Linked DNA regions of Homo sapiens. The protein of the gene in region 1 interacts with the protein of each later gene in a pairwise test. Each region holds a gene or a part of one and is shown on either strand. Other genes may lie near its edges.

Region 1 (3,652 bases):
GTAGGGTTGTACTCCTCTCCGTGGGCACCGTTTCTGCACTGTTGCGCTGACTCAAAGCACCCTTTGAAGTCCGTGGGACCTGTATCAATGAACACTAGGAACCAGGCCCTACGTGCCAATTTCCATCATTCACAAGTACTTCAAAAAGATGAGGCAGGGCAGGAAGTTCAAAAGAATCCGCCTGCAACTGCAGAATGCAATCCTCGAAATTACAGGCACTGCCTTGTCACACAGGGCTCACCAAGCAGGTGCTTTGCAAATGCCTCCTTCTTGCCAAGAAGTCCCTGCCAAGGATTAATAGGAATTTCCAGTTCTCTAAGCATTTCTTGTTCCTCAGAGCGATTACCCCTAAACTTCTAGCACTTCAAAAATACAGGATTTAGCACCTGTTTGTTTCAGAAATACTTGCTAAAAACAGATCTGCCAAAAGGCCACCTCTAAAATTAGTCATATTTCTTGCTCTGCAAAACATAGTAAATCGTATTTTTAGTAACTCCTTCACTCCAGGTATCTGGCACTGTCATGCTCTAAGCATGATTACTGGCAACTTAGTAAGCAGGCAACCCTTACTCTTAGCCTAAAAATAGTTCTGATGGAAGTGACAAGCCGGCTTATTATTCTTTAACCAAGGGTTAGAACAAGATATTTCAACATCTTAACCAATCATTTTATGTACTCAACTTTGTATCTCAGTGAGACTCAATCACAAAAAAGGTAACAGTGGCATGGACTGTCTGTTCTTGTTCTGTAGTTTGCCTGCCTACAACACTGGCTCAATACCTGAGATACACCTACTCTTTTCTCGATTCAGCTTTTCCAACTATATTTTTTCAACTTTTATCAATTTTTTACAAAACACAATAACCTGTCATGTGCCAGAGACCATGCCTCTTGTAGGTATCACGAACCATCACCAGGGTTCAAGCAATTCTCATGTGTCAGCCACCCAAGTAGCTGGGACTACAGGTGTGCACCACCACACCCAGCTAATTTTTGTGTTTTTAGTAGAGATGGGGTTTCTCCATGTTGGCCAGGCTGGTCTCAAACTCCTGACCTCAAATGATCCACCCACTTCGGCCTCCCAAAGTGCTGGGATTACAGGCATGAGCCACCGCGTCCAGCCACTAAACCAAACTTCTAAGGAATTATCCAAATATATTGCTGATGATAAAGGACCATTGTTTTACTGATTCCTTACAAACATTATTTATAATGTCTGTATTAGAAACATTATACGTGGTTTCTAAGTTGCTTCATTTAAAGTTTAACGTTTATGGAAATTTAAAATCTTAAACTCTTTTTTTTTTTTTTTTTTTTGAGATGGAGTCTCATTCTGTCACCCAGGCTGGAGTGCAGTGGCACAATCTAGGCTCACTGCAACCTCCACCTCCCACATTCAAGCGATTCTCCTGCTGCAGCCTCCAAAGTAGCTGGGATTACAGGTATGCACCACCACACCTGGCTAATTTTTGCATTTTTATTAGAGACAGGGTTTCACCATGTTGGCCAGGCTGATCTAGAACTCCTGACCTCAAGTGATCCACCCACCTTGGCCTCCCAAAGTGCTGGGATTACAGGCATGAGCCACCACGTCTGTCCTGTTTCTGGACCTCACTTCAATTTTCTGTAAGTCACTTTCCTTATTCTGTCGACAGATGATATTATCTGATCATGCAGCAGCCCCCAAGTCACTCTGTCTGGTTGGGGGCCAGGGCGGGGGGCACTTGTTATGTGCCAGAGACCACGCCTCTCATAGGTATCACAAATCAATACCAGGCTCTGCAAGCACAACCACTCCAGGTGTTTCAAAGTCATTACCCCATACTGTTGCTCAACAGCTTTGCTCTTCGTCTCAAAGCCAGAGAGTGGTACTTTTCAGAATCTGGTTTTGTGATCATTTTCCCTGGTCTAATCATCAACTTTGGTCAAAGACACTCAGCCCTGACTGTGAAGGTACCTATTAAGAGTTTCACATGGCCAAGTGAACTATTTATTTTTAAAGCCAGATTAACAGAGATTGCATTAACTCAAAGGAGGACACAATTAGGTCTCAGCCGCAAGCCATCTTTCCTTTACAAGCAGTAAAAGAGCCATCTAGATTCAAATGGCTTCTAAACAAACAACTTCAGAGGAAAAGCAGGCAAAAGATTGTCCTACAGGCAGTGGTGGCAAAAGCAGCCTCTTGATGAGATCAAATTGAAACCTAAAAGGAAAGTTGGGAAAAACTGGCTCCCTTTGTCATCTGGACTCAGACAGTGATTCCCAGCAAACCATGAAGGATTTCACCCAAAGCTTTTTGGAAGTGTAACCAAGTCGAAACACAACACGCTACACACACACACACACCCCCATACCAAATGCCTTCAACTAGCAATGCCCTAGATTTTAGCACAAATCACCCAAAACTAATTCTCACAGTTTGAGAATGCAGCTATGAAGCAGGCCAAACTTGGGGTGCCCTCTCAACTTCTGTTTCCCTATGCCCTCTTTCAGCTTTTTCATGGACTGATTTCCCAAGACAAGCTGCCCTGAATCCTTTCGCTCCACGTGGGCTGGGAGTACTTCTCACTACAGTATTAATGACTTCATTCCCCTCCTAATGTGGAATGGATCCTTTATAAAAGGATGGGCCAGGTGCAGTGGCTCACATCTGTAATTGTAGCACTTTGGGAGGCCAAGGTGGGAGGATCACTTGAGGCCAGGAGTTGGAGACCAGCCTGAGCAACACAGTGAGACCCCTGTCTTTATAAAAAATTTAAAAAATAAATAGATAGGACAGGAGAAAAGTGAAATTCTAAATCCAAAATGTACACACCCCAAGAAAAGAGGAATTAATGAGGGAGAGAGGCCTCCCTGGGTCACCCACAGTGGGGGACACTGGAGGCTTAATGACCTCCTTTTCCTCAGCTCTGCTCACTGGAGGAAACTTTCCCCAGGCCAAAATCATCTTAGTAGCTCACCTTTTAAAAGAACTTCAGGTTGTAAATAGCCTGAGGCTGTGGTCATCTTTGTTTTGGCCTTAGTTAGGCAATACCCAAAACTAGAGTGGGAATGAGGACTCATTTTAATTTAGCAATCTTTCTCAGAGTCAAGCATACACACACAACCATTTTAATCCCCACAATCTGCTAAAACCCAAATCTATTAGTTAAGCATTAAAGGTGCTGGATTTGGGAGATAAATGTTATGAATGACACCATTGTTTCTTTAAAGCCAGCAATTGAGTGAACTAAAATCCAGATTTCTCCCAATGCCCGCAATCCCTGGAGCACTGATTCTCCCCGCTGGGGAGGAGCATCCCGGGAAAACCAAGTTTTTCAACACAGACATCTCTCCCCTGCCTCCTTCTCCACCCAAAGAACCACCATCCTTACCCGCAGTCCACCAATGGGTCCAGGGGAATAATTTTACATCCAATTAACATCTCCTGTCATTGCAACAATGAAGTGAGATTCATCATTTAAGAAACATAAGATGGGAGGGAAGGGGAGTGGGCACCTGGGGAAGCAGCGAGTCTCTTCATGTGAATCCTATTTGGGCAAGAATTCCCTGCATGTCGGGGTTCCCAGTGGGCCCAGCACAGAGCTCCAGAACCCAAGCGCTGGCTGAGCTCTGAATCCACCCCCAGGCAGTTCAGCCAAAGCCAAGAGTT
Region 2 (3,652 bases), on another chromosome or scaffold:
CTTCCTCCTGAGCTCCCAACGTGATTCCTGCTTGTGCTGCTCAGGGGACACTAAGCTTTCTATAGGGAGTGATGTCAACCCAGCTGAAAGCCTCTAGAGAACAAGGAGCTCATCTCAGGCATCCTAGCTACCCCATCCTGGCCCGGGACACAGAGCAGGGCCAGGTATGCACTAGGGCCATCCTCCAAGTCTGTCCAACAGCAGGCCACTGCCTACACAAATGTCATAGGCAGGCAGTGCTCAGAAGACAGGCGTGTGGTGCACAGACAGCATGGCTTGGGAAACAGGGTGGCGCAGCCCCTGTCTTCCTCAGTGACCCTCAGGTGTCCTCTCCCTGGTCTTAGCTACTAAGATCTGATGAGATGCAAGGTCCACTCTAGATCTAAGATTCCATGATTCATGTGTTCATTCACTGAATACAGCCTGTGTGCTAGGCACTGTGCAGCTGGAACTCAGAACAGAGGGTCAGGAGAAAAGGCTATAGTGGAGGCCGAATCTAGAAATATGAGTTGGGACTGGGTGACACATCTTTGTGTGTTTGTGTGTGTGGGTCGGGTATGTGTGTTTGGTCAGACCAAAAAGTACAGAGTCAAGAGAAAACGTGATTGCCCCTGACAGACACAGAGATGCAGAGTAAGAACAAAACAAAGATTTCTACAAAGTGTTCCAGAAGCTTGGAGAAAACCACCATTATTTCCAGCCAGAGCGGTGGCTGGCAGGACGCTGACTGAAAAAGTGGCGAGGCTGGGTGCAGAAGCCTGGCTAAGGTTTGCTTGGGGCCTGCGTGGGGTCATGATTATTCTAAACAGCAAACTGTGGCTGTGTTCAGGGATCAAAGACCAACATTTGGTGGGGTTGGGGTAGGGCATCTGGAAAACAGGGATGGGGGCACAGTGGCGTCTGGAGAGGGCATGGCGCCTGACAGCAGGGGCCCCGCATGGCAGGTTCCGAGGCTCCGAGCTCTCTAAGGCTCCACCCTTACCCTGCGACAGGCGGTCATTGCTCTCGCTGGGTCCAAGCAGCAGGTCCTGGCTGGGTAGACTCTCCGAGTGATTCAGGCAGGACAGCTCCAGGCTGTCTGTGTTCTCCCTTGTAAGGAATGAGGTCCCAGGGGCCAGAGGGAGGGTCATGGGGCGGGGACTGGTAGCAGGGCAGGGTCTGCAGAGACAGGGAAGATGGTGCTGGGAGGAAAGTCACCAGGTGAGAGGCGCAAGGCTGCTCCCCAACCCCACTCTATGTCCCTTAGCGACAGAAGTCAGGCTTCTCACCCTGGGCTCAGGCATTCTTGGATGTCAGACACCCAGGCCTTCACATGCTGGGCATCCACTGTCTCCATGATATACTCGGATGGACCTTCCACCTACAGAGATGAGACGACGCCTCAGCTGGGGCAGGGGCAGGGAGGAGGCTTAATCCATGCCTAATGAGAACAATGTATGCAGGCTGTCTACAAACAAGATGCATTCGAATTCTCTCTGGAGGCCGGGTACAGAGGCTCACACCTGTAATCCCAGCACCTCTGGAGGATCACTTGAGCCCAGGAGTTGGACCAGTCTGGGCAACATAGTGAGAACCTGTCTCTAAAAAAATTGAAAAATAAAATAAGGCGAGGCCGGGTACGATGGCTCACACCTGTAATCCCAGCACTTTGAGAGGCCAAGGAGGGTGGATCACAAGGTCAAGAGTTCGAGACCAACATGACCAATGTGGTGAAACCCTGTCTCTACTAAAAACAAAAATTAGCCAGGCGTGGTGGCAGGCGCCTGTAGTCCCAGCTACTCGAGAGGCTGAGACAGGAGAATCGCTTGAACCCGGGAGGCGGAGGTTGCAGTGAGCCAAGATCATGCCACTTCAACTCCAGCCTGGGAGACAGAGTAAAATGCCGTCTCAAAAATATAAAAAATAAAAATAAAATAAAATAAAATAGGCCAGGCGCAGTGGCTCACGCCTATAATCCCAGCACTTTGGGAGGCTGAGGCGGGCAAATCACGAGGTCAGGAGATCGAGACCATCCTAGCTAACTTGGTGAAACCCCGTCTCTACTAAAAATACAAAAAAATTATCCGGGCGTGGTGGCGGACGCCAGTAGTCCCAGCTACTCGGGAGGCTGAGGCAGGAAAATGGCATGAACCCGGGAGGTGGAGCTTGCAGTGAGTCGAGATCGCGCCACTGCACTCCAGCCTGGGCGACAGAGCGAGACTCTGTCTCAAAAAAAATAAATAAATAATAAAATAAAATAAGGCCAGGCACAGTGGCTCACGCCTGTGATCCCAACACTTTGGGAGGCCAAGTGGGGTGGATCACTTGAGGCCAGTTTGAGACCAGCCTGCCGAACATGGCAAAACCCATTTCTGCTAAACATACAAAAAATTAGCTGGGCATAGTGGTGCATGCCTGTAATCCCAACTACTCAGGAGGCTGAGGCACAAGAATCGCTTGAACCTGGGAGGCAGAGGTTGCAGTGAGCCAAGATCGCGCCGCTGCACTCCAGCCTGTGCGGCAGAGCAAGGCTCTATCTCAAATGTAAGTAAGTAACAAAATTAGCCAGGCATGGTGTCACATGCCTGTAGTCCCAGCTCCTTAGAGGGCTGAGGCAGGACGATCACTTGAGCCCAGGAGTTCGAGGCTACACGAGGCTACAGTGAGCTATGATCAGGTTGCTGCACTCCTGACTTAGAGGGAGACCCTGTCTCTCTAAAACAACCACAACAACAAAAACTCCACAGTTCTCTTTCAAGTGGAGGCATTGTTTTTGAGAGTAAGAACATTTCCCTGTCTTCCGCTATCCCAGAAAAGCTGCAGCCCCAGGGACACACTCTCAAGGCACTGGACACATATATATACCTCCTTTCGGCGACGCCACTTGCTTAAATGCGCTGAGGGCTTTCTCCTTAACACAAGCACTGCCGGCGGCTGGGAAGTTGAATTCCTACCTTAACCACAAACGTGTTCTCCCGGTCAGGCATCTCCAGGGCTGTGGTTGTCCGGACGTCTGTGATAGAAGAGCAGGGGATGCTGAGTCGGGGCCGAGAGGCCTAAGTCAGGAGAAAGAAACAGATCTGGGTGTTTGGTTTCCAAAGACCACTCTTCCCCTCCCTCCAGACATTCATCTTTCCTTCTACATCCTCGGGAAGTTAGACAAAAGGCAGTCACACTGCTTTCTCAGTCCTGCCCGCAGCTGCTAACACAGAGCCAAGAGCCAGCTTTACCAACAAAAAGTGAGCGACACCAGGGCCATGGGCTGGTAAACCCCAGAGCTTATCTGCAGGGCTGTGACCACTCTGAGCACTCTCTCACTTGCTCTCAGTCACCCACCCTCCAAGGGGCCTCACCTTGGGTGGTACAAAGAACTCCAGGCGACTTCCTCCTCCTCCTTCTCCTTCACTTCGAAGCAGCAGGCGACACTTCTGCCACTGAGGCTGCCCTCCTCCCCCTGAAGGAGGCCCAGCCACCCCTCCTCCCCGGCCCACTCCGGCTGGGTCAGGGGCTGCCTCCTCAGCCCCCATGAAACTCAGCAGCTCTTCCCTCTGCACCATCCCTGCTCCATCCTTCAAGGCGCCCCCTCCCCGACTGAGTCTCAGCCTCTCAAAACGGTGAGTCCATCTTTCCCCAGGGGACGTTCCATCACTGACCAGTCCCCTACCAACGGTCC
Region 3 (3,752 bases), on another chromosome or scaffold:
GTGTTTTCCTGTTTCTTTATATACCTTATTATTTTATTTGAGCATTTCAAAATATAGACATTTTTCTAACTCTATATAGATTTGTTCTGTGTCATGACGATTATCAACTAATATGCTTGGTATGTTCTTAGTCTTAGCATAAGCCCAACATAAAACCCTAAGGCCTTGTCAGCAATTTTCTGAACTTGTATCTGCCTGGACTGTGTGTGCCCATTAGTAGTTCCCCCAAATACCTACTGGCTTTTGAATAGCTTACTATTTCAAAAATTCACACCCCAGCTTCCCCTCAATGGGTTAGACGGACTATTGCACGTCTCTTCCCCTAATCTCTTGCCCTTGGCATCATACTACATTTCTACTCAGCACCCCCATAAATAAATAAGTTTATTTTAGTCAATTTCAGATCACTTCTTGACGCGTCCATGAGACAAGTAGGGGCCTTTTGATCCACCATATTGCTGAAATCACTCTGTAAAAGCTTTCAATGATTTTATATTATATTGTATCAATGTATAATAATTAACTTATTTCTCAACTTACTTTTTGGTTATTATTTGAGGAAAAGTAAATAGAACGAAATCAGGGCATTGCAAGTTCTGACAACTCCAAGATGTTGATAATGTATTGTGCAAACTACATTCATCATGTTCTAATCTGCCCTCCAAAGGAAGGAACAAGTGAAAACTATCCCACATGAGAATTATTCATCCATTTATATGTAATTAATTTCCAGTTTTTCCTTACAAATAATGTTTAACAAGATGACAGATTATATAAAATGGTTATCAGTTTTTTGGCTAGTTACTTCTTGATAGTCTGTAATAAACCTGGTTGAAGAACAAATACTATTAAGGCACTGCTTGCATATATTAAATGATGTCCAAACTCCAAAAACTGTTAATAATTAACACTCCAATAAAAACTACACCAGAATTTCTTTTTATTTGCACCCTCATCAGGATTACAGCTTTATCAGGACTGCATCTTCTTCAGAAATGAATATTTCTCTTACAACGCAAAGAAAGAAAAATCAAAATAAATTTTCTGATTGAAAATGTAAAAAGGCAAATATTTTTACAGTTTTAACTTTAATTTTTTATTGAGGACCAACTATTTGAAAAATTCTCATTAGTCATTCCTTTAAATTATGTGTATGTGAGAGAAAGACGTAAGATGGTTAATTATTTCAAATGATGCAGTATAAAGAAGGGGCATTATCACGGCAGAAACGAAAAAAGATATTTGTAGCTGGAGGTTTTTATAGTCTAACATATGGTTGCTATTTGTTCTACAAATCCTTTTGAATAATTTAATATAGAGATTTAGAATAGAAAATAATACTTTAGATAGAAATTAATGAGTTTATTATAACCATATATTATAATAATTTACTTAGGAATTCTCTTTGATAAGAAACAAATGAACTGAATGCAATTTTCTCCACAGACCATATAAGACTGCCTATGTACCTCCTCCTACATGCCATTGGTTAACCATCAGTCAGTTTGCAGGGGTGGGGGGAGGGGTTTCCTGCCCATTGTTTTTGTAATCTCTGAGGAGAAGCAGCAGCAAACATTTGCTAGTCAGACAAGTGACAGGGAATGGATTCCAAACACCAGTGTGTAAAGCTAAATGATGGCCACTTCATGCCTGTATTGGGATTTGGCACCTATGCACCTCCAGAGGTAAGAATAATTCCTTTTAGTTTTCGGATTTCAAAAGAATAAACCTAGTAGAAGTGAAACCCGTATTGGGTTGTAAGGTTCGTGTTCCTACCTTACTCTGGATGACTCACTGGTCTAGGTTTCCTAGGCTAGGAGAAAAAAGTAGGCAATCCTTGTTCTGCATTGAGGTCCATTCCTATGGTCACGTACTGCTTATTTTTCGTTTGTGCACTGTTTCTTTCTTCTGTTCATGTCTAGTTCCCAGCTTGGCAGAATATGTAAAACTCAGTATTGAAGAACACTGTTGGTCATCTCCCTCTGGTGGAGATTAATTGCAATAGGAGTGATTTCTCTGTTTCTACAACTGAAGAAATCTTTCCATCTTCCAAGAACATACGATCCAGAGAAATACTTATAGCAAAAATTACTGGATATGGTGTGCACAAAACTGTCGGCAGAGTATCACTGTTCTGATGGGCGGCAGTGAGTGCCACCCAGTATTACCGGACCTGGACTAGAGTTTCCACTGTACTATTTCACTTTTAAAAAGAACTTCCTGAAAGAAAAAAATACCACCTCATTTTAAGTAAAATCTAGAACCTAACAAAGGAAAGTCTAAATTCTTAGTCCTTTTTTGTATGCATCATATTTGTATCAAAGTGGTAGGAGTGGTCTTCTGACACAAAAATGAACAAAATGGAGACCTCATTTTCTAGATAGAACTTGTATTCCAAGACTGTCCTCAGGCTACTAAGTGTGTGAATAGGAACTAATTATTGAAATTTGAGTCTCTCACTTTATCGATAAGTTGTGATGATCTACAAGGATACATTTTCTAGACCAGTGACAAAAGTGGTTTAATTTTTAATATAAATTGGCATGGGCAGGAAATGAAAATAACGACACAACTGAAGCTCCAGCCTTGGTAAACCTTTGAGTGTTGGCACACTTAAAGACTGCTCTCAAAAAAGATTTAAAAAAAAAAAAAAAGACTGTTCTCAGGAGATGGCGGGGAGACCGTTATCTAGTTCCTTGTAATTTCAACGAAACAAGAAAGCTTCTTTAAATACATGTAAAAATGAAAACAGTTTATTTATATTTTTGTCATTAAAAAATACCTTTCAAATCTTTATCCAAATTTGGTCAATAAGTCAGTAATTTTAAATTTCACTGGAATTCTGTCTTTCCTGAAAGAGATAGCCTTATTTTTTATGGCAGAACTGTACCTTAGTAAATTCTTAACAGATTTCAGTGAATTTTTAATGTACAAATCGATATCCTCAGAGTATACATCTTTACCCCTAGTGTTCAGTTCTGTTGTGTAGCCAGAATGACTATGCAGAAAAGACTTAATAGACTACTATTCACAGATGCTTTATTTCCCAAGTGAACCCTAGTTGGGTCGATGTAACTAGCATCCAGTCAAAATCTCAAGAACTGAGACACCAAAGAACATCTCTTGTAGACAGCATTTCCCAAATACGATGTTGGAGGAAGTCTGAGTGAGCATTCTGTGTAATATCACTGGGAGAGAACTCATATGAGCTTGCACCGTTTCCCTTCTATACTCCATGTGATTTTTACCATGTATAATATCACTATATTAAAAATAATTAGGACTATTTCAGTCATGTTAACTTTTCCAACAAATCACTGAATCTGAGGGTGTTATTTGGTACCTCCATAACAGTGATCAACCAGAGATTGCCTGAGACTGAAGGTGTTTCTGGGATGCTCAACCTTTATTACTAACCAGGAAAGACTCAGGCAAACTGAGATGGACTTTTCACCCCACATACAGACAGGAGGAAAAGCTGATTCTTGTATAAAAGTCAATGCTTGTGCCTGAACTACCTCTCAGCCACAGTGATCACCAGATACTACCTTTGGTTGCTCCTCCAGGTTCCGAGAAGTAAAGCTTTGGAGGTCACAAAATTAGCAATAGAAGCTGGGTTCCGCCATATAGATTCTGCTCATTTATACAATAATGAGGAGCAGGTTGGACTGGCCATCCGAAGCAAGATTGCAGATGGCAGTGTGAAGAGAGAAGACATATTCTACACTTCAAAGGTACTGTGTCTATGATGA

The links.
Region 2: the proteins of HUNK (region 1) and SH2B1 interact in a two-hybrid assay, tested with the Homo sapiens proteins (one large-scale study listed by BioGRID and IntAct).
Region 3: the proteins of HUNK (region 1) and AKR1C3 interact in a two-hybrid assay, tested with the Homo sapiens proteins (one large-scale study listed by BioGRID and IntAct).

Annotation. Positions count from the first base shown.
Region 1 is NC_000021.9:31,875,924-31,879,575, reverse strand, and holds part of HUNK (hormonally up-regulated neu tumor-associated kinase), read right to left. Parts: intron 1-3,652.
Region 2 is NC_000016.10:28,866,714-28,870,365, reverse strand, and holds part of SH2B1 (SH2B adapter protein 1), read right to left. Parts: coding exon 3,333-3,652; intron 3,036-3,332; coding exon 2,934-3,035; intron 1,361-2,933; coding exon 1,269-1,360; intron 1,159-1,268; coding exon 983-1,158; intron 1-982. UniProt on the Homo sapiens protein: Adapter protein for several members of the tyrosine kinase receptor family.
Region 3 is NC_000010.11:5,092,844-5,096,595, forward strand, and holds the start of AKR1C3 (aldo-keto reductase family 1 member C3), read left to right. Parts: upstream 1-1,570; 5' UTR 1,571-1,601; coding exon 1,602-1,685; intron 1,686-3,566; coding exon 3,567-3,734; intron 3,735-3,752. UniProt on the Homo sapiens protein: Cytosolic aldo-keto reductase that catalyzes the NADH and NADPH-dependent reduction of ketosteroids to hydroxysteroids.